Regions from separate parts of the Homo sapiens genome. Here regions 2, 3 and 4 are each reported to be linked to region 1. Evidence: microRNA targets listed by miRTarBase, many of them from high-throughput screens and not tested one by one. Region 1 holds a microRNA gene; each other region holds the end of a gene's coding sequence. Distances are between the middles of the regions.
Evidence for each region. The annotated mature microRNA hsa-miR-6077 reads GGGAAGAGCUGUACGGCCUUC and lies in region 1 at 4,766-4,786, shown strand. An mRNA with a match to its seed (bases 2 to 7 or 8) in the 3' UTR can be bound and repressed. Matches are read on the target gene's strand: a 7mer-m8 pairs with bases 2 to 8, a 7mer-A1 pairs with bases 2 to 7 and ends in A, and an 8mer does both.

Region 2: the mRNA of PADI1 is a reported target of hsa-miR-6077. Seed matches in the 3' UTR shown: 7mer-m8 at 2,732-2,738.
Region 3: the mRNA of DUSP7 is a reported target of hsa-miR-6077. Seed matches in the 3' UTR shown: 7mer-m8 at 2,980-2,986 and 7mer-m8 at 3,052-3,058.
Region 4: the mRNA of SPRED3 is a reported target of hsa-miR-6077. Seed matches in the 3' UTR shown: 7mer-m8 at 4,681-4,687, 8mer at 4,362-4,369 and 7mer-m8 at 4,058-4,064.

What each region holds. Positions count from the first base shown.
Region 1 is chr1:148,383,529-148,390,727 of GRCh38, forward strand. MIR6077 (microRNA 6077) reads left to right here and starts at 4,754; the gene lies at 4,754-4,835. It also overlaps the pseudogene RNU1-155P and the pseudogene RNVU1-2. RefSeq lists an enhancer at 4,057-4,896.
Region 2 is chr1:17,241,021-17,248,219 of GRCh38, reverse strand. PADI1 (peptidyl arginine deiminase 1) reads right to left here. Exons shown (of 16, transcript NM_013358.3): 16 at 2,213-4,210. The coding sequence ends at 3,977. Among named protein-coding and RNA genes, the nearest start is that of PADI3, 4.5 kb to the left of the region's middle.
Region 3 is chr3:52,045,567-52,052,765 of GRCh38, reverse strand. DUSP7 (dual specificity phosphatase 7) reads left to right here. Exons shown (of 3, transcript NM_001947.4): 3 at 1,644-3,847. The coding sequence ends at 1,951. LOC124906238 (a long non-coding RNA gene) reads right to left here and starts at 6,537. Exons shown (of 2, transcript XR_007095908.1): 1 at 5,444-6,537; 2 at 3,808-4,947. RefSeq lists an enhancer at 5,247-6,446.
Region 4 is chr19:38,395,706-38,402,904 of GRCh38, reverse strand. SPRED3 (sprouty related EVH1 domain containing 3) reads right to left here. Exons shown (of 6, transcript NM_001394336.1): 6 at 3,318-7,199. The coding sequence ends at 6,760. Among named protein-coding and RNA genes, the nearest start is that of FAM98C, 3.8 kb to the left of the region's middle. RefSeq lists silencers at 1-25, 2,588-2,746.

The DNA.
Region 1 (7,199 bases):
ATTTCCTGAGGAAGGAACTCAGATAAAACAAATATTAAGTTTCAAGCTTTAAGACCAGAAGGGTCCATTTCTAGGTTTATCCAAAAAAGCTACATGTGGGACTGTTGGGTGGTTTTCAGATCAAGAAAGAAAAAGATTGTGCAGACCAAAGTCTGAAGTTAACCAAAGAAAAAACAATTTTCTGACCAATAGGATGTATAGGATCAGAGAATGACAAGCCTATAGAAGAACTGTTTTTTTGTCCTGAGCATAGGGGAAGGATGAAGCTGCACCAGATAAGGTGGAATTAAGCTGCAGATGGGCAAAAATCTGAATTTTGGTTCAGAGCCCTGGGGTCTTCCTCAAAAGTCTCCTTCCTTGAAAGAGGAACCCTGTCTTGGTTTCTGCATCTCTCTGAGTCCTTTTGGAGGTTGAGGATGCTGAGGTCTTGGTGCTTGGCCCCCTCTAACCCTGAGTACTTCCCCTCCTGCAGGGCAACCTGGCCAAGTACCCAGGCCCCAGCTCCAGCGACCATTTCCCCCTACTTTGCTCCTAGCAAAGGCTATTTCTAGGTCAGTGGTGAGGCACAGGCAGGACAGGGCAACTCGTTCTGACATGTTTTGCCCTGGAAGGCCTTGAGCACTGCGGTCCTGCAGAACCACTGTCTCCCTCTTTTGGAGAAAGCAGGGAGGAAATGACCTGTGTGGAGGGAATCGAGGGCTACACCTGCATGGAGGAGCTGAGGCAAGCAGGGCAGTTCCAGTCTGTAAATGTAAAGGACATTTGTCATCCAAGAGGTTGGGCTGTTATTATTAATTTTGAATTTTGTCAAAACAAGCTTCAGGGAAATTAGTCGTCTTACTTGTAAGAACCTTACAAGACCTCCCATCTTATATTCCAGGGAGAATTGCTGCGTATTACATGAACACATAGGTGAGACTGCTGTTCTGACCTGCAGGACTTGATGCCCTGGCGCAGGGGCACCAGGGTACCGGCAAAGCCTTTCCCATACAAAGAGCAAGGATGTTATGTCTACAACCCATCGGCACCAGTTCCAAGTACAATTTCTGCTCGACTCTATGGACTGAGTACACATTCCCCCCAGCACAGAAATCCTACAAACTCCCATGAATGCTATAGTGAAAAGCAGGGGCTGGCTAGGTGTGATGGATCACACCTGTAATCCTAGCAGTTTCTAAACTTGAGTCTAGGAGTTGGAGACCAACCTGGGCAACATGGCAAAACTTCAACTCTTAAAAAAACAACACAAAAAAACAACAAAACAAGCACAGAAATTAGCCGGCTGTGGTGGCTTGTGCCTGTGCTACTCCAAGGGCTGAGGTGGGAGGATTGCTTGAGTCAAAATGCCACCAGATACAGTGAGACCCTGTCTCAGGGAAAAAAACAAACAAACAAACAAAAAGAGGCTGTGTAAGAGGTCAACAGAAAAATACTAAGGTTTTCAAGTGGTGTTAAAAGCCAGTGGGCCTTGGGGACCATTGAGCAATCTACAAAGCAGGGAAGCCTAGATCCCTGAGCTCCACCTGCCAAGTACCACCACAGCTAATGTGAGAGACCTCCCCCACAGAGACTGAAATTTGCCTCCCGAGGAAACAAGTGACTACAGACATCTGTCCCAGGATAATAAAAAAGAAAACAAGGTCTCACAAAAACAAAAACAGCTGACCACACCATACAATCACTGAGACTGAGCCTGTGACTATAGGTGAAGAAAAAAAGGCTGTCTATTATTCATACCATGAAGGACCAGGGGAAAGTGCGAACACAGTCCCCTACTACTGTTGTGGGAATCAGGAGAACAGAGAGACCAATGGGTGGAACAGGAGGACTTTATTGAGTGTACTCAGGCCCAGCATATTAAAATCCAAAGGCTGAGCCCTGAACAAAGACAAGGCTTGGCTTTTACACACACTTCTGAAAGGGGGTTGGCTAGTTTGAATGGTGCAGTGGGAATTTGAAGGTGCAAAACTCACGGTGCAGGCAAGAGGGCTTACAGAAGCAGAACAAAGGCAGCTAATCAAACTGTGACCGGTCTTGCAATGCAAGCATAGCTGGTGACCTTGCAGCTGCACTGACAGGAAATCAGGAACTTAAAACTTGAATAATAAGAAATGGTAAGGGGAAAAGAGAAGGTAGTAAAGGGATTTGTTGTTTTTTCCTCTTATCCTTGCTAGGGGCAGACTGTGTTGAGAGAGTCTCTGGAACTAATTCCTCAGGGCTCTGGCTTTTCAGACAGTGTTATCAAGGATCTGCTAGGGCTCTATCTATTGCTGGCCTTGGAGTCAGTCAAGTACTGTGAAGCTCAGTTATGCAGCTGAGCTTCACACATTAGGGGAGATAACAGAGAACAGCACATCTGGAGTGCAATGGATGAGCCTCAACCTTAGGATGAACCACTATTGGTGACCATAGGATTTCCCCTACCAGGTAAGTGGCAGTCCACATACCTCTGCCCCACCACAGCTCCATACGCCTCACCTTTACACGCATGGTCACTTGCTCTGAGAACCACCCCCACCAATCCCCAACCACCCTGAGCCCTCCTAGCCCTAACACACAGCTGGGACTCTCACGTCCACCCAGCAGTCCTGGACTTGCTCCTACAGCACGGGAAATCCTCCATGGTGAAGAAGCAGCCCTGTGCTACCTCATCTACATAGAAATGCCCTATCGATGATGTCACCGACAATACCTTTCTTAATGTTCTGGAGATTATTAAATTAGATTTGTATAGTTGTGAAAAGTGCTCATATTGCTGATTCCATTGCTTATATGTGATCATATAAATCTTTTCTCTCCTTTCTGTAGTGTGGTTTAAACTTAATCCTTAAAGGACATGTATTTGAATTTTTCAGCTGGTTAGAAACCTGAATATACCAATCAAAGAAAACTGCTCCTTACATGCTACAGATTTGGTTTTCTTCCTGTACTAAGATGTCTTTTAGATATAGTAAATTTGTTAAAGCCAAGACTTCCTATGGAACGAAGTTTGATGGGAGGGGGGACATTGAGTAGTAAGATCACTCTTGTAACAGGGATGCCACTCTTGCAGATATTGACAACTATTGGGCCCATAAAATTTTTACCAAACATTGGAAAGACAAGATATGAACAACTTATCATTGCTGCAGTCTCAAATATCAGGAAATACCATTATTCTCAGGACAATAAATAGACAATAAAAAAAGTCTCACAGAGCAGATTAGCTGTCATGTATTACCAAACAGGGATTGGATCCTTGTCAACACCACCCAACAGAAATTGTCCATACAAATTCACTTCATAACATCAAAACCAAAAGCCCACACTGATGGCAAAAAATAATGACACAATAATGAGAGAGAGAGAGAGAGAGAGACCTGTCCTATAGCCATACTTAGTGTGTAAAAGCCAAAGAGCTCAATTTCTGCTCATGATACTTAATAAAACAGACGGAACATGAGCCAATAATTCAGTGGGTTCAGATCTGCACCAAGTGCCTGTTGGATGCAGGATTCTACTGTCTCCAATAATATGTCTCAGATGGCCTAGTTTTTTTTTGTTGTTTTGTTTTGTTTTGTTTTGAGACAGAGTCTCGCTCTGTCGCTCAGGCTGAGGTGCAATGGCATGATCTCAGCTCACTGCAACCTCTGCCTCCTGGGTTCAAGCGATTTTCCTGCCTCAGCCTCCCCAGTAGTTAGGATTACAGACACACACCACCACATCCAGCTTTTTTTGCTTTTTTTGCTTTTTTTTTTTTTTTTTTTTTTTTTGTATTTTTAGTAGAGACGGAGTTTCGTCATGTTGGTCAGGCTGGTCTCGAACTCCTGACCTCAGTTGATCAGAAGTAGGTGAGGTCAGAAAACATACCCTGGGAAATGCTGGCACAATGCCCAGAACCGCCATCTCTAGGCCTGGGGTTTTCTTTTGTAGTGGAATACTAGTATTCATGCAATGCAGGGACAAGACCAATTAGATACTTCTGGGAGTTAAAAAGAGATGAATTTACAGTGCCATTTGAGAAGGGGTATTAAGGAATTTGCCAGGGTACTGACGCGTGTCAGGTGCAAACTGCAGGTTGAAAGAGAGCTAAGTATTTTCTGTCCATGAAGGTGATAAGGGAGGGCCTGAAGAAAGACGGACCGGGAAGGACACTGGCGCCAGAAGTAGGAAAGGGCTGCTTGGGGGTGGGAAGGATGGGTCGGGGTGCTATCTAAAAAGTTGCCTGGCAATGGATGTAGGATATGGAAGCGAGACATCAAACAAGAAGTTGTCATTTAAATAAAGTCTGAAGAAAGACTAGATATGTAAACAGCAGGAGATAATAGGGAAACTGGACCCCGCTGCTCATAAAACTTCCTGCCTTATATTTCAGGGAGGATCGCAGCGCATTTCAGCCAAGACAAGTAAGACTGCGGTTCTGACCTGCGGGCCTCCACGAATTGCATTAGGGCACCTGGGCTCCGGGAAAGCCATTCCCCTACACAAAGTAAGCGTGTTATGTCTGCAAATGAACGGGGACACTAAGAGCCCCAAAGGCCCTGCTTTCATCCCAAAGAACAGCGCCTGTCTGCGTAGTTTGTACCTGGCTCTATGAGGTGAGAACACATTCCCCGCTAGCACAGAAATCCTACAAACTCCTGAGGGGGCTGCGGTTAGAAGCAGGGGCTGTGTAAAAGGTGACTCTGGGGGCTAGAGAAAACCACGAAGATTTTCACAGAGCGTGAGAACCCAAGACACTGGAGACCATGGACCAATCTCTGCAAAAAGCAGCCCTGCGTAGAAAGGGAAGAGCTGTACGGCCTTCGCGCTAGTTTGTTTGTGTTAAGGCTGACGCTCCCTATTTCTCCTCAGTGGGAGAAGCGACATCTTAATTCCTATTTCCCAGCCTTCCACTGTAAGAATAACACGTCCAAGACACAAATCAATGAAAGAAAAAAGTAGCCCTTAGAGTACAGCGTATTCTTGAAACTACAAAAAATCAGGGGAAAGCGCGAACGCAGTACCACTACCACAAATTATGCAATCGAGTTTCCCACATTTGGGGAAATCGCAGGGGTCAACACATCTGGAGTGCAATGGATAAGCCTCGCCCTGGGAAAACCACCTTCGTGATCATGTTATCTCCCCTGCCAAGTAAATATGAGCTCCTGCACCTCCGCCCCGTACGCCTCACCCTTTACACGCACGGTCGCTTGCCCCGCGCACCCCCCAGCCCTCCTAGCCCTGACACACAGCTGGGACTCTCCGGCCGGACCAGCGGTCCTGAGCCCGCTCCCAAGGCTCGGGAACTCCTTCGAGGCGAAGCAGCAGGTGGGGAAGCAGCAGCTCCTGCGCTGCCTCATCTACATAGAAGTCGCCCTATCCGTGATGTCACCGACAGTGCCTTTCCCAGGCCCCATCTGCCTTTCTGCCAGTCAGCCGACCAACCCGCTGCCTGAACCAGCAAGAGGAAGTGACGTCTGCCTCTCCCTTTTTCCCTCCCGCCCCGGCATCTGTTTTCGCCCAAAGAAGCTGGTCCTTAGCCTATCTTGTGAAGCAAACTTTCGGTGGCCAGATGGAGCCTGGGTACTCTTCTTCACATAATGACTTTTATTTCGCAGACTAGAACGTTTAGGACTACAAAAGAAACCGGTTTTCTTCACATACTTATCCTTGTAATGTAGCATTCCGCTTGAAATTGGAAGCCGTTCAATGTCACAGAGAAACCATATTTATGAAAGTAAAGAGGCTTCTCAGATGACTGCAAACCAGCCTTCCTTACTGATTTTATCACTGGTAATGTTATAAAAACAGTTGTCAAGTTTAATGAATCTTGTAGTTTTTTTTATTTTTATTTTTATTTTTTTCCAAATTCAGTATTGTGGAAAAATATGCTGCCACAGAAGAAATGATTGGACACTCTCAAATGTGGTGTTGCACTTTGTCATCTTTTGCACAGCCATCTCCAGACCTTATTGCTTACCTCGTGTTAGTTTTTTATATTCTGCAAAGACAAAACCAAAATAATCCAAATTTGACAAAAATACCTGGGATACATCTTATTTGTGATGCTTAACAAATGTCTGGATCATCTTTTCTTATATGGGATTATAATGCAGGAAACACTGTGAAGTAAGCAAAGTTGGAATTCCCAAGTCAAAGACCATTTGAATATTTACAAGTAGATTTGAGACAGGAATAATACAGGGTGGTCACAGGATAACAAATTCTAGGCAGCAGATTTACATGACTTGAGGCTATGGGCTGATAAGATGCTGAAAAACCAGGGTGTGGACCAAGCTGGCTAAGACTGACTGGACCCAATGTGGTGCTGGATTTGACGTAGGTTTTACCTAGGCCCTCATTATACGCTTATTAACATACTAAATCACACACCCACCAGTGCCATGACAGTTCTGAGACCAATATTTGATGTAAAAATGGATGGCACCACAGTTCTGAGAAATCTCCACCTTTACCCAGGAATTTTCATCAATATTCCACTCCTTGGTTAAAGAAACCCATTGAGATGAAACCCCAGAACCCATTGTTCTCTCTCAGGTATGCCCAAACTCCCCTTTCTTGAGTGTGTACTTTCTGCTTTGCAATAAATCTCTTCTTTCACTATTTGCTAACTCATCCTTGACCTCATTCTTGAGATGGTGTCAAGAGCCTGGACACCACAGCTGGGGTCGAGATCCTACCAGTGTCCGGGGACCTCCCCCAGCCCACCAGTATCAGATTCTATTCCATTGCTCAAATCACAAAACATCAAATGGAGAATTCTTCTTTGGAGACCACAAAGTAAAGATTCTGTGGCATGGTGGCCAGTTAGGCCACTGGAAGACATGGCAAAATATTGAAAATGAGGGATTAGGTGACAGCGTAGTAACTGCTGAATGTGAAATACTTGATCCAGACCCCATTCCCTGTAGACTGACTGGGAGACACATTGTCCAGGTAGTAGTGGAGAAATACTTTCTGGGTATCTGACCAGCCTTTGTGGAAAGAACTGGCACCATCCTGCAGATGTAACCACCTGATGGGTTCTTCCTGCCCACTGTACACACAAAATCAATTCACGGAGACCATGGCATTGCAGTAAAGAGTTTAACTGACACAGGCTAGCCATGACATGTAGGGGACAGAGTTATTACTCAAATCAATCTCACTGAAGGCTTGGAGGTAAGGGTTTTTTCAAAGACAGTTTGGTGGGGAGGGGGCTAGGGCTTGGGCGG
Region 2 (7,199 bases), 130 Mb from region 1:
GGGCAAGTTTCTTTTTTTTTTTTTTTTTGAGACAGAGTTTCGCTCTGTCACCCAGGCTAGAGTGCAGTGGCGTGATCTCGGCTCACTGCAAGCTCCACTTCCCGGGTTCACGCCATTCTCCTGCCTCAGCCTCCCGAGTAGCTGGGACTACAGGCGCCTGCCACGGCTCCCGGCTAATTTTTTGTATTTTTAATAGAGGCGGGGTTTCACCGTGTTAGTCAGGATGGTCTCGATCTCCTGACCTCTTGATCCACCCGACTTGGCCTCCCAAAGTACTGGGATTACAGGCGTGAGCCACCATGCCCGGCCGGGCAACTTTCTTAATTGTTCGTGCCTCACTTTTCTCGTCTGAAAAATGGTTGCTGTGAGGCCTCAGGGGCCAGCGTTGGTAGAGCTCTGGTATGGAGCTTGGCGTTATTGTATTACTATTGTTGCTGTTATTAGGTCCCAAAAACCTCTGAAAGCGGTAAATGATGAGGGTGAGAACTCTCTCCAGCCAGGGGGAGCTTGGCATGTCAGAGTAGGAAAGCTCAGTCGTCAGGTGGGAAACCGAAGTCAGAGGGGCATTCAGGCTCCTGGAAGAGCAGGAGCAAGGGCTCTGGGGAGAGAAGTCTTGGGTTCAGAGGCAGGCTCCACCGTGCACCCACTATAGGGCCTTGGGTGTCAGTGTCCCCCCTCTTGGAGACTCGGTTTCCTCATCTGTAGAAAATGCAGCTAATCACTGGCCCTGGCGGAGATAATAGTGAAGACGCACCCTGCCTGGCGGAGGCTCAGGAGGTGCTGAATAGAGGTTTCCTCCCTTCTCCCTGGCAGTGCTGACAGCCTGAGACAGGATGGGGACCAGGACCCGCTCCCCAGCATCTCCAGCTGGGACATCTGCACCAGTTCAAGGGCCTCAACAGGACCCTGAGATTGTCATTCCCATGTCTCAGTTTTTGGGAAAGATGTTCTTTTCAAGGAGAACTGCTGGGCTTCTGGGTCAAGGGACAGCTTCACTTTTTTCAGCTGTGGAATGGCTTGATGGCTGAGTCAGCCTTGGGAGCCCTGGGTAAGAGTTCGAGCTCAGGAGGAAGCCTTAGTCTCCCTAGCCTTCTTGTGAGCACAGATGGGGAATAGATGCAGAAAGTAGGGGCTTTCCCTGGGGTGCTGGCCCACTACCTGCCTCTTTCTCGGAGAACTGTATATGTCTTTGGAAGGAGACTCATGCCTTCACTTCTCCTCTGTTAATACCAACTTTTAGAAACAGGTTTGTGGTTAATTCAGACTAAAGTGTCAATGACTAATAGGCAGCAACTTTTTGCCCTCTTACTCCACAACAAAAGCTAAAATAAAGTGAGTGAGTATCAAACGGTGTAATTTGAGGCAGCAGCAAATGTGTAGGATGAGAGGGTGATGATTTCAGGCATCCAAAATCAGACCACTGAAGCCAGGTAACTTAGAAGCTTCAGACACAAAAATGGAAGGGAATTGGGCCAGGCACAGTAGCTCACACCTGTAATCCCAGCACTTTGGGAGGCCAAGATGGGAGGATCGCTTGAGCCCAGGAGTTTGAGACCAGCCTGGGTAACATAGCAAAACCCCAGCTCCGTAAAAAATAAATTAGCAATTAGCTGGGCATGGTGGCCTGTGCCTGTATTCCTAGCTACTCAGGAGGCTGAGGTGGGAGGATCGCTTGAGCACAAGAATTCAAGGCTATAATGAGCTGTGATAGCACCACTGCACTCCAGCTTGGGTGACAGAGCAAGACTCGGTCTCAAACAAAAGAAAAGAAAACAAAACAAAACGAAAACCAGAAAGGGAACTGTAGTGGCCTGTGGCCCTGGGAACCAGCCCTGCTGGGGAACTCTCACCTCTGTTAATAGGGCCCGGGCTGCCTCCCCGACCTGTTGTCCCTGAGAGATGGAGGGGATGCTGAAGGAAGAGAGAAGAGATGAAGAGGCAGGACCCATCCCTCCCCTGATCTGATCTCCATCTTAGCAGGGCCATCAGCCCCAGAGCAAGAGGCAATGTGCCAGCCATCCTGCTGAATCAGCCTGCCTGGCACTGGCCGTGGCACTGGCCGTGGCACTGTGAGGCTCTCCTAGCTGAGCAGGGGCCGCCTGTGGCAGCAGAAATTGAGCCAAGCAGCTTCATAGTGGATGGAACTGGAAGCAGTCTTCTCCGCTTTCCTCCCCTCCTCCCCAACCCAACAAACAGGCTGGGTAGACAGCCCTGTAAGAAATGCATGTCGACATTTTTATTGATCAGAAAGTAGGTGACTGGTCACCCAGAACATTCTCAGAGCCAACACCAGGGCCCCTCGATGGCCCAGCAGCAACTCCAGAGCTTCCCACACTCAGTGTGGCCCCGACCCCCAGCCCTATCTCTGCAATGCTCACTCCCTTCCTACCCACAGCTCTTTCTCAGGGGAGTCCCAACCCCAGCTCACACCCCCGGCCCCTTCAGAGCCTCCTTCTCCTTCTTGACTCAGTGCAGGCTGGGGTATGATCCTGAGCAGAGGACGCTCAGGTTAAAGCAGGAGCTTGCAAATAGAGTTCTGTAGAACCTTCCAGAAGGGGATTTTCAGGTTCCCGCTCACCCACTTTAACCATAGCAGTTCCAGGCTAGCTTTTGTTGGTTAAAACAGTGACAGTAGTTGGCTCAGTGTGAGGTCTCAGCAGGGGCCACTGAAAACCTAGATGGACCGAAGCCCTAGGGCCAACTGCCCTACAATGGCCTCACTGGCAGTGGGGGAAGAGGGTAGGCTGGCTTCCTCCTGCCCGTGCCCTGCAGCCCAGCTGAACCAGCCTGCCTGTGCATGTCTCAGTGACCTCACTCCGGGCTATTAACCTCCCGTGGCAGCTGTCTTCCCTACTGTGGGAGGGGACATGGGCCTGCACAGCGGTTTATTCAGGGATGAAACCTAAGCTATGTGCAGGGTCCCTGGGTTGCTGAGAGAGACCGGGCAAGCCTTCCCCTCCCACTGCCTGCAGAATGAAGGGGAATAATTAAAGACTATTAAAGGAAATTAAACTCCACCTTCAGAGATAACCTAATTTCCTCCCAACACACACACCCTCTTCTAACATCTGGCCCCCTACCCCTGCTACATCTGGAAGCTCCAGCTCCCTTCAAATCCAGAGTCCAAAATCCCAGCCCAGGAACCACGGACACCTCTAGGCCCCCAAATCCGTCGTCACACACTCTGCTACCCTGACCTCATCCCCTCCTGCCCCGTCATCCTTTGTGTGTCCTCAGGCCTCACGTTGGCTTCTCAGCATTTCTGAGCTGGGAGAAGCCAGCTCTGGTAATTAAAGTCTTTCCAGAAAGGTAGCAATCACTCTTCTGAGGTCGGAGTCAGCTATTAAAATTTTGTTGTCTTTTTTTCTATTTAAATTGGCCCTTGGACACTGGGTTTTTCTGTCCTTGTTTGTCCACACACAGCTGAAGGGTGCTGGATGGGGGTGGAGGTAAGTGTCACAGCCTTGGGTCCCCTTTGGGAGAAGAAACCTAGAGCGGGGAGAGGATGTTTCTGATCCCCTTTCCTAGTTTTCCAAGAGCAGAGGCAGCCTGGTGCCTGGCACACCAGACCCCAGGTCCCCCAGGCCCCGTTCCAGGTGCAGATGCAAAGTCATTATCCTTGTTCCCCAGGGAGGCATCAGAATGAAGGGGGAGCAATTCTAAGTGGGGCCCATCTCCCTAGGCCTCCCACAGCCATTCTGGAACATGCTAACATTGTTGATCTAGAGCCTCTGGGGGCTGTGGGTGGGAAAGAGGCCAGGGAAGAATGAGGTGCATTCTTCTCGGGTTGGGTAGGCCATTCCAGAGGCGAGGGTAGGTGGTATCCATCCCTGTGTCCTGGTGCCCATGGTGGCCAGGATGTTTGCAAAGTGCCAAGACTCCCCCAAGAGAATGGAGGCCAGGTGGTTGTTCCTTGCCTTCACCCTGGCAGGGTTCCCTAGCAAGAGGGCAGAGAGGATGGCGGGTGGGGGCAGGCTCAGGGCACCATGTTCCACCATTTGAAGGGAAAGGGCTTCCTGCGCACGTTGGTGCCACAGTGGATCTCCCCCTGCAGCTCGTGGTAGGACAAGTAGTCATCAATGAAGATGCAGTGCAGGCCCAGAGGCTCCAGCAGGGACTGCACCTTCTCCTCCAGGCAGCAGCGGCCATTGATGATGGGCCCGTAGGGCTTGGGGATGCCCAGGTACTTGCCTAAGACCACCATGTTAACCTGCAAAAGAGAAAAGGCAAGAGGGAGGCTGTCTGGCTATAAGTGCTGTGCTTCTGGCACCCCTTCCTTGCCAGAATGAGACAGGCCCTGGGGAATGGGTTGGCCATAGCCACAGCCTAGAAAGGGCTCTAGGACTGGAGTTTGCTCAAGAGTTAGGGCCTATGAAAGCAGAGGAGAAAAAGATTCAGGGTTGGAAATGAGGTTGAATAACAGCCAGGACTACCAGGAATTTTGTACATTAAAAAACAAAAACAAAAAACAAAAAAAAACTTCTCCCACTCTTTCTTTCATCTATGAGAAAATTGTCATATTATAGCAACTTTGTTAGAACAAGAGATTTTCGTGTCATCTGCCAGAAACTTGTACAACAAATATACACACCTACAAGGTCTGTGGTGTGGATGTCTTCCAAAGTGTGGTGTGCTTTTGCTGTGCACAGCTTGCTTAACTGTCTTTGGCAGCCCTGATCATTGTTAGCATTTATTGAGCATCTTTTATGTGCCAGATATATCATCACTAAATGCCACAGCCTCCCTCTGAAGCTGTGGCTCAGACAGGTTAAGTCACATAATCATACAGCCAGAGAATGATGAGACTGACATTTGGACTTGGATCTGGCTGGTGCCAAAATCCATGCTTTTTATCTGGCCACCTGTGGGACTGAGGAGTTGGGGGAAAGGGCTGAAAAAGCCTTTGGGGACACTTGAGTTTAACTCTGGGGGCACCTCTCCTTCCCTTGGTTGCGGACCTGGCTTGGGGCCCTAATCTGGGGATGGGAATTCTCCCCCATGCTGTGCTATGGGGGTTTCTTAGAGGAAATCTCAGCCCAGGTTGATGGCAAGAGGTCATAAGGGGTGACCCTTGGTGTTCAAAGGGGACTCCGGACCTTCTCTCTAGAGGGCGGCTCTGGGCTGTCTTGAGTTTGAGGTGAGCCTGTCCTGGACTCTGCCCTCAAACTCTCCGTGCTCTGCCCCCCACCCTCAAGTCTGCCCCACCCTCATCCATGGCAGGGACCAACATAAAGCTGGAGGGTCCCGTGAGGTCAGTCCCCTGGCCTTGGCCCTGAACTACCTCTTTGCCCACTAATGGGCCAGAACATGCTGGGGTGGGAGTGGGGGTGGGGCATGCAGGGGGCAAAGGGCAGAAAGAGGAGAAAAGAGCCAGGACCAGGACCAGGACCAGGGCCAGAGCCAGCCAGGCCTCTGCTTCCTCCTAAAGGAGGAGTCATGGGATTGGGGGCTGGTCCCAACTCCGCCACTCGCTCACTGTGTGACCTCAGACACATGACCCACTCTCCTTCTAAGCCTCAGTTTCCCCATATGACAAACCAAGGGGTTAACTGGGTGTTCCCTATGGGACCCTCCAGTGAAGACAAGCTGGGATCCTTCAGCAGAGCCTGGAACGAAGCTAGGGAATCCCCACAGGATGACCCACAGTCAGGGGCTTCCGGCAGATGGAGGCCAGACCACAGACACACACGCTCCAGCCTAGGCCCTCCCCGCCACCTTCAGCCAGAACCAGAGCTCAGCAGTCCCTTAGAGCTTTGCTGTCCACCACAGTAGCCACTGGCCACATGCAGTTGTTTAAATTAAAATTAAACTTACATAAAGTTACAATTTCTGTTCTTCATTGACACTAGCCACATTTCAGGTGGTAGCTGAGTGGCTACTGGACTGTATTGTACCGATATGGAACATTTTCATCAGCACAGAATGTTCTAACAGACAACACTGCCTTCAAGCCGTGGTTCTCAATCAGGGTCCATTTTGTCCACTAGGGCATTTTTGGTTGTCACATCTGGGAGAGTGCTATTGGCATCTAGTGGGTAGAGACCAGGGAGGCCGCTAAGCATCCTGCGAGGCACTGTACAGCATCTACAACAAAGGCTTATCCAGCCTAAAACAGAAGTAGAGCTACAGAGTCGAGAAATCCTGCTTGGGGGTCTCTGCCAGGACCTAGAGGCTGGAATCTCCCCATGAGGAGTCAGGAAAGCACACTGACCCTCCCCACCTCCTGCAACCTGCATCCTGATTCCGACATTCACTTCCAACCCTGATTCCATGCCGATTCCGACATTCACTTCCAACCCTGATTCCATGCCGATTCCGACATTCACTTGCAACCCTGATTCCATCCCGATTCCGACATTCACTTCCAACCCTGATTCCATCCCGATTCCGACATTCACTTCCAACCCTGATTCCATCCCGATTCCGACATTCACTTCCAACCCTGATTCCATCCCGATTCCGACATTCACTTCCAACCCTGATTCCATCCCGATTCCGACTTTCACTTCCAACCCTGATTCCATCCCGATTCCGACATTCACTTCCAACCCTGATTCCATCCCGATTCCGACATTCACTTCCAACCCTGATTCCATCCCGATTCCGACATTCACTTCCAACCCTGATTCCATCCCGATTCCGACATTCACTTCCAACCCTGATTCCATCCCGATTCTGACATTCACTTCCAACCCTGATTCCATCCCGATTCCGACTTTCACTTCCAACCCTGATTCCATCCCGATTCCGACATTCACTTCCAACCCTCGGCTTGTCCCAAGAGAGGGATTCAAGCTAAAGACCGCAGTCTGAAGAAAGAGGGTCTATCCCCATCCCGGGGGACCATCCCTGCCAGCTGCCAACACCCCAACATCCTTTCCCAAGAGGTTAATGGGCACTTGGGCCAGGCCCACCCCGATAGCATCGCTCAGGCCCTTCCCAGTTGAGATCACATCTGCTCATCTCCTTGTCAGCTGCCCTGTTAATGAGAGTCAGCGAGGCCACCGCCCACCCCACCTGCACCGCCTGACACAGGACCCCCACTGGGGAGCAGCAAGCGAGGGGCTGTGGTGGGGAACACAGCAGGCAGCTGAGACCCAGAGACAGAAGCCTGAAACACTTGGAACCAAACCACGCTTTCTTTTTCCATCTGGGTGAGAAAAAAAAAAGTGCTTTGTGGCGGGGCATCCTATGCTCTG
Region 3 (7,199 bases), not on the chromosome of region 1:
TACCTTTATCCTTCCTGAAAGCTCCTCCCCGTCTGGGTAGGGGGACCTTTTTCCTCATTTGACAAGTGAAGGAATTGAGGCCCAGGCATCCCTTAGGAGTCAGTGGGACAGGATCAGTCACCAGCTACACCCTGAAAAGGCCAAAAATAAAGCCAGCAGAAACAGACTGTCTTTGGATCACCTGGAGGTGGGTTTGGAGGCCAGGCGTTCCTCACATCCTGGTGTCACCACTGGAGGCTGGTCCCAGCACCCCCTTTTCCCACCCCCAATCTCGAGGTCTGACCACACAGCTCCTCATGAAGCTGCAATGTCTGTCTCCTTGCCAGATGATCCTGCCCCAGTGCCTTAGCCATGGGGCCCCCTGTCAGTCCCTGAGTCTGGAGGAAGCACCTACTGTATGCTTTACTCCTTGGTTGGGAGGGGATGGGAGAGGAAGCTCTGTCAGGACAAAGGCAACGAAGAACAGTGGGTGAACCCGTATGTCATCTTGTAGGAAGGCATTGATTGCGTGCTAGCTGTGTGCCTGGCTCCTGGAGGGTTCAGAGTCAGGGTGGTGGGGACATCAAGGACCCCATGGCTGCCTCTTGTGAATCTATGTCCCTGGCACAGCTGTGGCACACAGAGAGGCAGCTGCCCCGGGGTCCAGGAGAGATTACAGGACTGAGTTGTTCAGTAGCTCGGCCAGTATTTATTGAGCTTCTATGTGTCAGACAGAGGAGTCTGAGGGTGGCACTGGGGGAAGCTGGGAGGGTTGGAGGGGAAAGGGGACAGGAAGGTTGGCCCCATCCAGTCAGCTGTGGTAGGAGATATCACTGACACATGGGCCTCCTGAGGAAGGTCTAGCAAGTGGCAGGGGTGGGGCCCATTTAAGCACACCTCACTTATGAAGCCCCATCACAAGTGATAGTGTGGCCATCATCCCAGTCCATGTGTCTTAGGAGCTGGAGTTAAGGCCTTGGGGACTAGCTGGGCAGATGGCAGAGCGAAATGCAGGGCCAGGCCACCTACTTCCTTCCAGAGGAGCCTCCCTCAGGCCACTTTCCTAGAAGACTCTCAGGGACAACCCATGGGAGCGGCTCCAAGAGAACCAGCCCAGCCCCCAGTCCCAGGTCATGGCCTGGCAGCAGCGGGCGCTGAGCTAGGAGGAGCTTCTGTGTGGCCTTGGGCTTGCCACTTTGTCTCTGTGTCTGTTTCCTCGTTGATAAAATGGGCTTACTGGCCATGGTGCAGATGACCCAAGAGGATGCAGGTGACACCCGTGACAGCAGTCGTTAACGCACATGGCAGTGGTAGGACTAGCCATGATCACAGGCATTACAGTAGTTCATGTTTGTTGACCCCTCACTTGGCTCAGGTCCTTATGAGACCACTGTGCATAAATAGGCCCATTTTATAGATGAGGAAACAGACACGGGTGTCCAGTGCCTTGGGGCTAAAGTGTGCAGAGCCCTCTCCACAGCAGTGCTGTTGACCTCTATTCCAAGTTGCTGCCCTACCCACACTGGGCTTGGCCAGGTCCCTCAGGGGTCGGGCAAGACCAGCCAGCCACCATGCTGCCCTCTGTGCCCCAGCCCCACCTGCCCACCCATGTGGGAAGGCTCCTTGAAGGAGGCACCTCCCTGACCCATGCCAATGTGTTTCAGACGAAGCCCGCTCCAAGAAGTGTGGTGTCCTGGTGCACTGCCTGGCAGGCATCAGCCGCTCAGTGACGGTCACTGTGGCCTATCTGATGCAGAAGATGAACCTGTCACTCAACGACGCCTACGACTTTGTCAAGAGGAAAAAGTCCAACATCTCGCCCAACTTCAACTTCATGGGGCAGCTGCTGGACTTTGAGCGGACGCTGGGGCTAAGCAGCCCGTGCGACAACCACGCGTCGAGTGAGCAGCTCTACTTTTCCACGCCCACCAACCACAACCTGTTCCCACTCAATACGCTGGAGTCCACGTGAGGCCTGGTGCACGGGGGGCATGGCACCAGGCCCCTGCTCGGCTCTCCACAGGGCTAGGTGGGAGAGCCCAAGCCCGCCACCTCTGGCCTGAGGAACCCCCAGATGTCACCTGTGCCCAGAGGCCCAGGCTGATCGGTGTCGGAGCGCCCCTCACCATCCTTGGGGGCAGGGCCCGCAGGCAAGGTCTCCCACTGCAGGGCTTGCTGGAGAGGCCTCGGCTCTTGGACACGTGGCTTTGGGCGTCCACCAGGGCCTCATCCTGTCCAGGACGCTCCTTTCTGCTGACAGCCCAGCCAGTTTGGCTGTTTTTTAAAGACACATCCACGGACCTGAGTTTACTTTTTACTTTTGGCAGGTAAATCCAAGCTCCCTGGAGCACAAAGAGTGTTTGAGCTCTTCTTGATTTTTCTTTTTTTTTTTTTTTTTTAACAAAAAGTGTTATTTTCAGGCTACATGCAACAGTGGATTGTATAACCCAGTATTTCATCCCTTTCCTGATCCTGCAAGAGAGAGAAATGTTCAGTTTTGTTTTTCGTTCAATTTCAAAAAGCAAGTATCGTGTTTGTTTTTGTTTTTGTTTTTTAATGGAAAAGACAGACGCCATGTTGACCTTGACCAAATGCGTTTTGCACATGTGTGAAGCCTCTGTTTCCTCAGCGGGCCCTTCTTGAAGGGGTGGCTTACTGCTCTTCAGGTATTGGGACCCCCAGTCGTGCCGCCTCCCACCCTTGGCCCAGTCTGACTTAGCTCTGCATTCGCCTGTGATGACTGCTGCAAGTTGTGATTGGTGGGCTGGATGGTGGTCTTTGCATTTTCTGCCGTCTCATCCATCCCTCTGGTGGTCCCTGCAGACCTCCCTGAGGCAGAAGGTGGGGACCCTGGGGCCCTGCCGCTGTCCCCCAGGAGGTGGGCCGCAGGGGGCTGCCAGGCAGTAGCATTAGCCCTCTGGGGTCAGCCCCTAAGAAGGCCTGGGCTCTGAGCCCTTTTATATACTTAGCCACTACTTCTGTCTGTCTGTCTGTCTCTCTCTCTTCCTCTCCCTCTCTCTCTTTCTCTCTCTCCCTCTCTCTCTCTTTCTTTCTCTCTCCCCCCCTCCCTCTCTCTTCCTTTCCTCTCTCTTGTTGTAACTGGGAGTGGAGGCCCAGTGGCTGGGGAGACATTAGGTGGTGGGGCCCAGCCCGACCTCCAGGTTCTTCCTTCTCCCTAGCTGTTGCTTTGGTCTGGCCACTCCCAGCCCCCTTGTCCCCTTGGAAGCTTGCCCTGCCCTCATCTTGCCCATGCCTTCTACTGCCAGGAGACTTGCACCCATTTCAACCCTAGGGCGGGGGCAAGTGGGGCAAGGATGGACCAGCAGAAGGGGGGTAAGGCTCTGTTCACTTCCCCCTGCCTCCACAGAACGAAGCCACGGATTCCGTTATCTTCCTCCAGTTTTGTTCCTTCTCCAGCCTCAGTTCCACCAGGTGTCAGGACTGCATGGGGGCCTGGGGCAGGCAGAGGAGTCAGGCCAGGGTCCCTGACGGAGCAGCACTCAGCATGTGAGTGAGGCCACAGAAAAACTCTGCCCCACTGCTTCTTACCTCACGGGGGTGGCTTTCAGGGATTCTTTAGCGCAGCAGATTAAAATCTTGCCACAGTCGAGAAATTGACAACAAGCTTCCATGCTGTACATGGTTCTCTTTTTCTCTCTTTTATTTTTAAAAAGAAAACCCAGAAAGATGTACCAGATTTGTGTAAATGAGGGTATGCCAGAAGGTGGCCAGTTTTGCTTTATGATCTTATGAAGGAAGATTTGTGACCCTACGTATATATATACACACACATACATATATATATATATCCCGAACCAACAACGGGACTTTGTTTATATTGCAAATAAATATTATTTTTTCTTTAAAATGAGTCGTGTCCGATAAGGGCTTGGGGCCTGGGAAGGAGGGGAAGGAGTGCTGTCGACAGGCATCCTAGTGCCTGCTCTGTGTGAGGCACTGGCCTGGTTCTGCTTGGGGTCTGCTGGCCACTTAGACTAATCAAGGTGCCCCGCAGATGGGAGGGAGCAGCCACAGTTTCTGGATGAAGCTGGGGCAGGTGGCATTTCCCCAGCCCTTAGGCACTGGCAGGCAGAGGCATCAGGGCTTTCTCTGTGGGCTTCTGCTGAAATCAAGGCTTGGAGAGGTTGTATATACCAAGTTGACACAACTGAGTCCTGACTCGCCCTTCATTGTCTGAGGCTGTCTGCTTAGGCATTGCCCAGATTGCAGCCCCCAGGACCCTAACTCTTTCTCTTGCTGCCGTGTGGGTGAGAGGGGAATGTGCATTTAACCCTGCCCCTGCAGGTCCTGAGATATCAGTGGGTAGTGACAGGTCAGCCCTTCTTTGCTTCTTAAGGGCTGGGTGGCCTTGGACAGGTCCCTTAGGCCGATTGCACCTGGTTCCTGAGTGCTTTTCAGCTTTGTGGCATGAAGAGCACATTATTGGCCTGGGCTCACAGGGAGGAATCAGCCGTGCTCAGGCGTGTACAAGGAAGGGTGGGCATGGGCCTCTGTCAAGGCTCCCCTGGGGGTGGGGGTCTAAGCGAGGCCCTGGGCTAGAGCAGGGAGGAGGTCTGGAGAAGGATGGGGGCCACAGTCTGGGGAAGTGAGGCCCCAGTGGACAACAAGCCCCGAGTTACAGATCAGGAAATGGAGGCTCCAGAGTGGCTTAGGTCTCCCTTGCCTCTGGCTGGATCAGGTGAGCCCCAGTCAAGGACTTAAGAGGCCTGGAAGCTGACTCAGTTTCCCCATTTCTGACATTCCCCAGCTCTATCCCTTCAGCAAACTGTGTGATCAGCACTGAGCTGGATCCAGGTGGAAGGTAGGTAGGTAGGGCCGAGAGGGTGAGGGCGGCTCAGCCTGGGACTTGCTCTGTTGGGGTGCCCAAGGCTCTCCTTCTCTTCTCTCCCTCATCTCTGCTCTTCAGTTAGTCTGCACCAGAACGCAGTCACAACCATCATGCGCAGCCTGTGGAGAGGGGTAGAGGGCAGGTTCTGCCCACTGTGGGGCCTGGGTGCAAATCTCAGCTGTGTGACTGCAGTCCCTCAGTTCTACCCCCTAACACTCCCATGTGGAGCGTGGAAGAATCCTGCCGCTCAGCCGGCAGGCCTCTGTGGGTAGGAGGGGGCTTCTTGCTGCATCCTCGACAAGGGGGCGGTGCTGCTGTTGCTCCTGGGCTCCCTCAGGGCCCTGTTCCTTCTGTGCCAGGGGCAGGCAAAGGGGGTGGGGGCCTGAGCAGGCAGAGACTGGGCCTTTGTTCCCTCCTGCTGCCCTCGCCCAGGCCTGGGGAAGCCCGCGGGTGCTGGGCTGGGGGCTGGGCCCTCGACAAACCGAGTAAGTGCCTGGCAGTGCCAGCGTGCCCAAGCACAGGACGGGGTGGGGGTGGGAGTGGCAGCCGCCTCCTGAGCCGGCTCTTCAGACGGAGGACTGGGACTGCCTGAAGAGGGCCAGCCCCGCCACTTACCCCTGTGCACTCTGGGGCCAGTGGTCTCTCTGACCGTCTGTGTCCTCCTTACCTGTAGAAATTCCTACCTCAGCACTGGGCCTGGCTAAGGTTCCCTGCTGGGGGACAGAGGGCCAGGTCATGGCTGAGAGGCTGGGGCCCTGGGTCCTTGCTCTGTGACCTTGGGCCGGGCCACGCTTACTGGACTGTGGTCCCCCACCCCTGGGTTTTGGGCTCCCATCTCATGGCCCCGTGTCCTGAGCTCCTCCTATCCCACCCCGTTTCTGCCATGCTCTCCCCAGCGGGCCCTGCTTGCTTCAGGCCATCTGTGGCTGAGGCCCTCAGCGCAGCCGTCCTGAGCTCTTGGACACTTGGCTCTCTGGGGGTGCACCTGCTTTATCTCTGTCCCCAGTCCTGTTGCTCTCTTGAGCCTGTTTGCCTCCTTGGTCCCTGTTTCTGCCTCCGTTTCAGCCTGGACCCCGGGGAGCTGGTCCACTCCTTAGCCGCTTAGTGTTCCCATGGGAGGAGGATCCAAGACACTTACTCACTTGCACATTCATCCAGCAGCCATTTCCTGTGCCGGCTGGGCAGTCCCAGGGAGGGAACATGCCCGAGGGAAGCTCGGTGATGTCACACTGGGTGGCAGGATAATGGGGCCCTCAACTTGTCCTCTGATAAATGAATCAAGTGCAACATGAGGACTGACTAAGGCTGGATACGAGGAAGCACTTGGAGTGCTGTGGAGCGATGACCTTGAAGGGGTTCCGACAAGACCGCAGGAGAGATGAACATTTCCCTAGGGTGGTCCCGCTCTGAGCCTGGGGGCAGAGGGAGCCCTCAGGAGAGGGCCCTGCTCTGCCTGCCACCCCCACAGGGCCCCTCCCCAGAGGAAAGTCATTCCTCATGAATGGACCAGGGTGGGGGTAGGTGGCAAGCCTGCACTGGAGCCTGCCCCTCCCTGCTACTGCCCATGTGCTGTGCACCTGGGCCAACAGCATGACTGCACTGTACCTCCCTCTGTGTCAGAATGGATGTGTCTGGGACACCAACACCTACCCCCAGATCCTTGGCAGAAGCCAGAGGGCCTGATATGGGAGCCAGCTTTCTCTGTAGGGAGCACAGTAGCATGTTAACCTCTGGGTGCCCCGATGGAGGGTGTTCAGGTCCTGATCCTTGACATCTTTTCCCCTGCTTTCTTTGGGCCCCACCAGGACACAGTGCTCTCACCTGACTCCTGAGACCCAGCCTACCTGAGAGCCCTGGGAAGGCTCGGGAATCACTCTGCTTCCCAGCCCTGTGCTGATGGGGAAGGTGAGGTTTGCAGAGGGGTGTCATAGAGTGAGGCAAGGTAGAAGCTGGGCCCCCCACCCTGCTGCCCTGAGGCTTTTCACTAGGCCCTGGCTCTGTGAGGGACCAGACACACACACACACACACACACACACACACACACACACACACACACACACACACACACACACACACACACAGCTTTGCCATCCTCTGACTAGACAAGCCCATGCAGGTCTCATAGCAATGGAGGAGCCGCCTGCCTGTGACTGTAGCCTCCTCTCATCAGGGTGTGTCCTGGGTGAAGTCATCCCTTTCCAGGCATGGTCATTAAAGACTATCATTAGCAACTCTTAGAGGCCTTGGCCCCATTGTCTCTGGCTGGGTCAGATGAGCCCCCACAGGTGACCGTGACACAGACTCCGGCCCCTTGCTAGAACCTCTCTTTGCCCAGGCAGCCAGCCCCCTTCCCAGGGCTGTCCTATCGCA
Region 4 (7,199 bases), not on the chromosome of region 1:
ATCTCCGCTGTCAAGACAAGCTGGCGGCGGGTGTCACTGTTGCGGCGACATAAAAACAACTTCGGTGCCATTTTCCTTTTCCTCCCTCAGTTGTCTTCTGCTGGTGTTTTGTTGGTTTGTTTTTGAGGCAGATTTCGCTCTATCGTTCAGGCTGGACTGCAGTGGCGCCATCGCGGCTCACTGCAGTCTCGACCTTCTGGGCTCAAGAGATCCTCCCGCCTCAGCCTCCCAGCTAAATTTTTAAAAATCAGTCAGCCTTGGTGGCTTACACCTAGTAGCTGGGACCACAGGCGCAGACCACCGCGCCTGGCTGATTTGTTTTTAATTTTTTTGTAGAGACAAGGTTTCCTCATGTTGCCCAGCCTGGTTTCCAACTGCTGGGTTCAAGCGATCCGCCTGCCTCGGCCTCCCAAAGTGCTGGAATTACAGGCGTGAGCCACTGCAACCGGCCAATTTTTTTTTTTTTTTAAAGTTTTGTAGAGGCCGGGCACGGTGGCTCACGCATGTAATCCCAGCACTTTGGGAGGCTGAGGTGGGTGGATCACTTGAGGTCAGGAGTTCGAGACCAGCCTGGGCACATGGTGAAACCTCATCTCTAATAAAAATACAAAAATTAGCCGGGCGTGGTGGCACACGCCTGTAGTCACCACTATTTGGGAGGCTGAGGCAGGAGAATTGCTTGAGCCCGGGAGACACAGACTGCAGTGAGCCAAGATCGCGCCACTGCACTCCAGCCTGGGGACAGAGCAAGACTCCGTGTCAAAAAAGAAATAAAGTTTTGTAGAGAGGGGTCTAGCTATGTCGCCCAGGTTTGCCTCTAACTCCAGTGTTCAAGCAATCCTTCCCTCTCAGCCTTCCAAAGCTTGGGATTACAGGCTTGAGCCAGTGTTCCTGGCCCTGTCCTCTGCTCTTAAAGCAGCCCAGACGGAGTGGTGTTCACCCAACTCTGCCTAAAATCCAAAACTTCCTCCCTCCTTTCCACCTCAGGGTTTGAATTACATAAGGGACCCAGGAATCCCAGCACACCCCTCACACACCAGGCCCTCCTCATCGATCACGATGTGCCTGTTAGGCCTTCACTCCTCTCCCTCTTAGGCCTTGGAGTGAGCAGGTGCAATGCACCATAGTGGTTAAGAGATTACACCCTAGGAATCAGGCAAAGGGTTAGGGCTTGATTCTGTTACTCGCCAGCTCCATGTTCCTGCCAAATTGCTTCCCATCTGTATAATGGGGATAATAGTACCTACCTCTTAGAGTTGTTGCTGAGGATTAATTAGAGTTTCATATGTAAAAAGTGCTTAGCAGATATATAGGGAGTACTTAATAAGGAATAACTAATATATATACAGCATTTAATGTGTACTATTGGGCGAAGTATCTTATCTCTTTTACAGAAGAGAAAACTAAGGTTGAGAGAAGATAAGTCACAGAGTGAATTCATGGTGATGCCAAGGCTTGAAGATGAAATTCCAGACTCTATACTCTTAAACCACGGAACCTATTTCCACTGTTACTACTGCTGTTGTTTTGTTGCTGTTGCTAAGTAAACATTGTGTCAGATCTAATCTCTTCCTTACTGTATCCTGGTATCCAGTAGTTCCTAGACAATTCTGCTGGAAGTTGGGGGTGGACCAGGAGCCTGGAGGGAAGAACAGGGGTAGAACTTGTTCCTTAAGGGCAGATACGAGTAACCCCATAACCCTGTTTACCCCAAGGCAGGACACTTGGGGGGCTATTTTTTGACATAAATCAAATGTTAAAAATTGCCCAGAGGTGGGCCACAGTGGCTCACACCTGTAATCCCCGCCTTTCAGGAGGCTGAGGTGGGAGGATCGCTTGAGCCCAGGAGTTTAAGACCAGACCAGGCACCATAGTGAGAACATGTCTCTACAAAAACATTTTTAAAATTAGCCAGGCTTGGTGGTGTGCACCTGTAATCCCAGCTACTCGGGATGCTGAGGTGGGGGGATCACTTGGGCTCATGAGTTTGAGGCTGCAATGAGCAGTGATCATGCCACTGCACTCCAGCCTGGGTGATGAACTCAATTTAAAACAAAAAAAAAAATTGCTCCAGCCAAAAACCTGGACTTACTATCTTGACTCCTCTATCTCAAATCCCATACATAAATCTGTGGGTTCTATTTACAAAGTAGGCCCAACACCTGCCCACTTCTCCACCCTTCAGGGCCCTCACCCTGGGCCTGTCCGCTGCTGTCTTGTCCTGAACCATCACAGCAGCCTCCTCTCTGTGAAGCTGTCCCCCACCCCACTCCTACTCTGCTGACCACATGCAGCAGAAGGAGCCTGTGAACTGAGTCAGGTCACATGCCTCCCATGTTTGAAATTTCCTGTGGCTCCGTCTCACTCAGGGTAAAAACCTAAGTCCATTCAATGCCCTTCAAGGCCTGACAGATCTGCCCCATCGCCTCTCTGCCCTCATCTCCTAGCGCTCTCTTCTCTGCTTCCTCCCCTCTCAACACTCTAGCTCCCTGAAGCTCCTCAGACTTACCGGACACACTCCTGTCTCAGGGCCTTGCACTGGCTGTTCCCTTTACTTAAAATACCCTTCCCTGCAGACATCCCCAGAACTCCCTCACCTCCGTCAGGGCTTTGTTCAAATGCCAGCTCCTGGCTAGGCACAGTGGCTCACACCTGTAATCACTTGGGAGATTTCCACCTGGAATCACTTGGGAGACCAAGGCAGGTGGATCACTTGAGGTCAGGAATTCGAGACCAGCCTGGCCAAAATGGTGAAACCCTGACTCCACTAAAAATACAAAAATTAGCCGGGCGTTGTGGCACCCACCTGCAGTCCCAGCTACTCAGGAGCCTGAGGCAGGAGAATCACTTGAACCCAGGAGGCAGAGGCTGCAGTGAGCAGAGATCATGCCACTGCACTCCAGCTTGGGTGACCGAGTCAGACTCTGTCTCAAAACAACAAATGCCAACTCCTGAGGAGGGTCTAACCTGGCCACTCTAGCTAAAATGGCATGTATCCCCCATTCCCACTTTTTTTTTTCTTTCTGCTTTCTATCATTTCTAACATATTAAGTCATTTACTTATTGTCTCCCCTACTATAAAGCTCATAAGCTCTTTGCAGGAGGGACTTTTGTCTGTTCTGCCCACTGCTTTATCTCCAGTGCTTTCAACAGGGCTTGGCACATAATTAGGTGCTCAATAAATGCATTTGTTGAGTGTCTTATAAAACTCAGCTTGAGGGTCTGATGGGAGAAGGGAGAATTTAAGTAGGAGACTGGTTTAGCAGTTCAGGAAGGTGAGTGGGTGGGGTGCACAGAGGCAAATAAATAACACAGGCTGAGACTTTGTCACAGACATTTCTTGGAGCAGATCTCGTGCCCCCTCCCCCGATGACAAGGCTGGGTCTTTGGCCCCCATCCTCCCCCACCACTTCAGCCTGCACTGACACTAACAATATTGAGGTCACAGACTGGCTTAGAAACAAGATCAGGAAGATATATGTTGGGGTGCCTCCCCCAAATCTGGGGGCCAAGCATCCGATCTGAGGGGCAAGCGGCTGGGAAATTGGGCCTGGGGGCTCCAGGGTCTGAGGTCTGCCTGGCTCCCAGGGCGGCCCTCCATGTACCCCTGATTTGGGGGCAATGAAGGGGAATCATGGATCAGAGGTGGGTCTCAGCAGGGAGCAGGACTGGGGGACCTGGGAGAGGCGCTGCTGGGAAGTGGCGGCCAGGGGACCTTTCCTTAGCCCCCACCGCTTCATCTGCAGATCCCACAGCACCGTACAGCACTCTGGTCCCCCGTCCCACCCCTCCCCAAAACGAGGTAGGTTAAGAATGGAGCTTCCCCCCCGCCCACCATGGAAGGGGGGAGACCGAGGCACAGAGAGGGGCATGGGGACCCAGGCTGCCCCAGCCCCCAATCCCTCCGCCCTCAGCTCTGGTGGGTCTGACAGTGATGAGAGCTGGGCAGAGTGGGGAGGGGAGAGACACCCCCGCTTTTCTCTCACCCATCCCAGGGTCTGGTTGGGAGTGCTGAATCTCACAGGTTCCGGATGTAATAAATAGTTAATAATTTAAAGGAAGAGACAGAGGACCTATCCCTTGAACCCCAACAAGGCCATCCAAGTCTGGGTAATGAAGAAAGGTTAAGTGCACAGTTCCAGATGCTTGGGGCCAGATGCAGGTCCCAAGCCCATACAACATTGAGACTGTCTTGCTCCAAGACCTTGAGGCCCCCATACAGGACACCAGATCTTCGATCCACTGGAAGCCCCATTTCACTTGGGGGAAAAAAGCCTGTGGCACCCCCCTTTGCACAGAAGAGACTCAGTGGGCCATGAAACAGGCTTTCAAACTTCCTGAAGCAACTTCTCACTCTAAAGTGGAAGAGAGCCAGGTGCAGTGGCTCATGCCTGTAATCCCAGCACTTTGGGAGGCTGAGGCAGGTGGATCATGAGGTCAGGAGTTTGAGACCATCCTGGCCAACATGGTGAAACCCTGTCTCTACTCAAAATACAAAAAATTAGCTGGGTGTGGTGGCACATGCCTGTTATCCCAGCTACTCGGGAGGCTGAGGCAGACGAATGGCTTGAACCCGGGAGGGGGAGGTTGTGGTGAGCCGAGATTGTGCCACTGCACTCCAGCCTGGGTGATACAGCGAGACTCTGTCTCAAAATAAATAAATAAATAAATAAATAAATAGGAAGAGAAGGGGTTAATGGAGGGGGAGAACATAAAAGGTGGGACTTGAACCTGGACTAGGAATTAAGGTTGTGCTTGAAGGAAGGTCTGCAAGACTGGGGGCTGTGGGACAGCAGAGCCATAACTAGCCTGAAAGTTTCCATTGCACACACTTCTTCTGAGGGCACAGTGTGGCCAGCAGACTGGTGTGACTTCCAGCTCCTCGAAACCCTGGGCTGTGTGCCTTCACTTAATGAAGACCCTGCATAATCATCTGTGACAATGCTGGGTCCTAGACGTGACAGTGAGGGAGCTCCTACTTGGTCCTTTTTTTTTTTTTTTAGAGACGGTCTCACTACATTGCCCAGGCTGGTCTCAAACTCCTGGCCTTAAGCGATCCTCCTCCCTTGGCCTCCCAAAGTGCTGGGATTACAAGGCATGAGCCACTGTGCCCCACCCTGGGTGGTCCTACAATGAGTTCCAAATGGTAGGGATCCCACCCTAAGATAAAGGGGTAATTCTGAGGATTGCTGGGGGCTTGGGCTGGGATCCTTGGGACCAGAATTCCAGAGGCTGGAACCTTGGGGTTTTAGGGGCCTATGGATGACAGGATTCAAGGGGCAGCAGGTCTCTGAGGTCCGACAAGTGGGGATGGGGGAATCAGGTGTAGAGGCAACTTGGGGTTCATCAGACTAGAGAGGTTTGAATCCAAAGAAATCTGGGGTCTGAGGGTGCTGGGGTCTTGGGGCACCTCGAATCTGAACGCCTCTGGTATGGAGGGATGAAGGTCTTGGATCAGGAACAATCCCAATGTTGTAGGGTCTTGAGCCTTGCATTTGGGGGTCAGTGGCACCTTTGGGGTATTGGATCCAGTGCTCCTAAAGTACCTTAGGGTCACTCAAGGGCTGAGGGCCAAGGGCATCAGAGGTCTGGGTCACCATGAGCATCCCCTCTTCTGGGAGCTGGACTCCCAGCCCTTAAGGGGTTGGGAATCTGTGGGTAGAAAGAAGCTGAAGATTCCAGGACATTTGGGGTCTCAAAATCCAGGTCCAGGAGGGACTGCAAGAGAGGGCTATTTGAGAACTCGAGACCAGTATCTCGGGTCCTGAGGTGTTGGTGGCCTTCAGTCGCACATCTGAGGACCCCAGGCACCTCTGAGTCCTATAAATGATATCCAAAGCTCCTGAGAACCCTGGCTTGGGGGTGGGTGGACCTATGGAGGTCTTTGATCCCTGGCTTCCAGAGCATCTTGGTGTCTGATATCTGGATCTTGGGGGCTCTGGGATGGGTCTCCCAAGTCATTTTGGTAAGAGAACAGCTCGTGTTTCAGTATATCCGAGCACTCAGTGCATCTTAAGAGTCTGGGGTCCCAGGGTGTCTGGGAGTTCCCTGGACATCTTAGACTTCAGTGTTCCCGGACTGGAGGCCAGGTCTGTGGGCACTAAGTCGTGGGTAGATTTGAGGGGCAGCATCTGGAGATTCCAGAGCATAACAGAGTTTCAAACTCTGTTTGAAACTTTCTCAGGGGTCCTGCTGTCTCAGGGGTCCTGGGACTATGAGAATGTCTCAGATGTGGGGGCACCAGGTCTTAGGTGAATATTCAGGAACTGTTTGTGGGTGACTCCAGGTCCTATGGTCTCAAGATCTGATCTGGGAGTTGAATAAAGGCAGAGCCAGTTATGGGCAAGTCCTGACTAATTGTGGGGCTGTAATCTGAGGGACATGGTGCCAGGCGTGACCGGGTTCTAGGTTGTTCATTTCAACAGGGACCTGCCCTTTTCGGGATCTATGTGCTCCCTGGCCTTTCTGAGATGCAAAGTATGGGGACGCCTGGAGCCTCCTCGTGGGGTGTGGGGGTGGGGGAACGCCAGAACTCAGGACGCCTGGGACTTCTTAGACAGACACCCCAATGAAGCTGGGGCTGGGGTCTCTCAGTCCTAGGTTTGGGTTCCAGGTTCCAGGTCTGAGATCTCTCAATCCAAACTCAAGCTCCAAGTTCCGGATGTGCCTAGGTTTGGGTTTTAGGTCCGAACGGAGTCCGGGGTCCTGGACCCTCAATTTTGGGTCCTCGGGCCGGCTAGGGGACCCACCAGGCCGTCCTCACCGCGCAGCCTCCTCGTGGCGACCCCCGCAGCCGGCGCAGCCGCATCGCGCTGCGACCCAGTGGCACGCGCGCAGGGGCGCGTAGCAGCAGAGGCAGGGCACTGCCAGGGAGAGCGCGGCCAGCGCGGCCCAGCGCGCGGCGGGGCGCGGGTGGCCCGGCTCGCAGGCGCACGGGTCCGAGAAGTCGCCCTCGGCGTCCGACAGGCAGTGGTAGAGCAAGCTCTCGGCGCACCACAGGCAGCTTAGACGGCGCACCAGGAGGCGACCCGGGTCCGGGGCCTCTGCGCAGCGGCCGCCACGCCCGTCTGCTCTGCGACGGAAGAGCGCGCGGCAATGCACGCAGCGCGCTGCCTCCTCCGCTTCCGGGGAGGCCTTGGCAGGCGCAGAGGATGGGCCCGGGCCGGGGGGTGGGCGAGCGGGGGGCGCTGGGGGCGCAG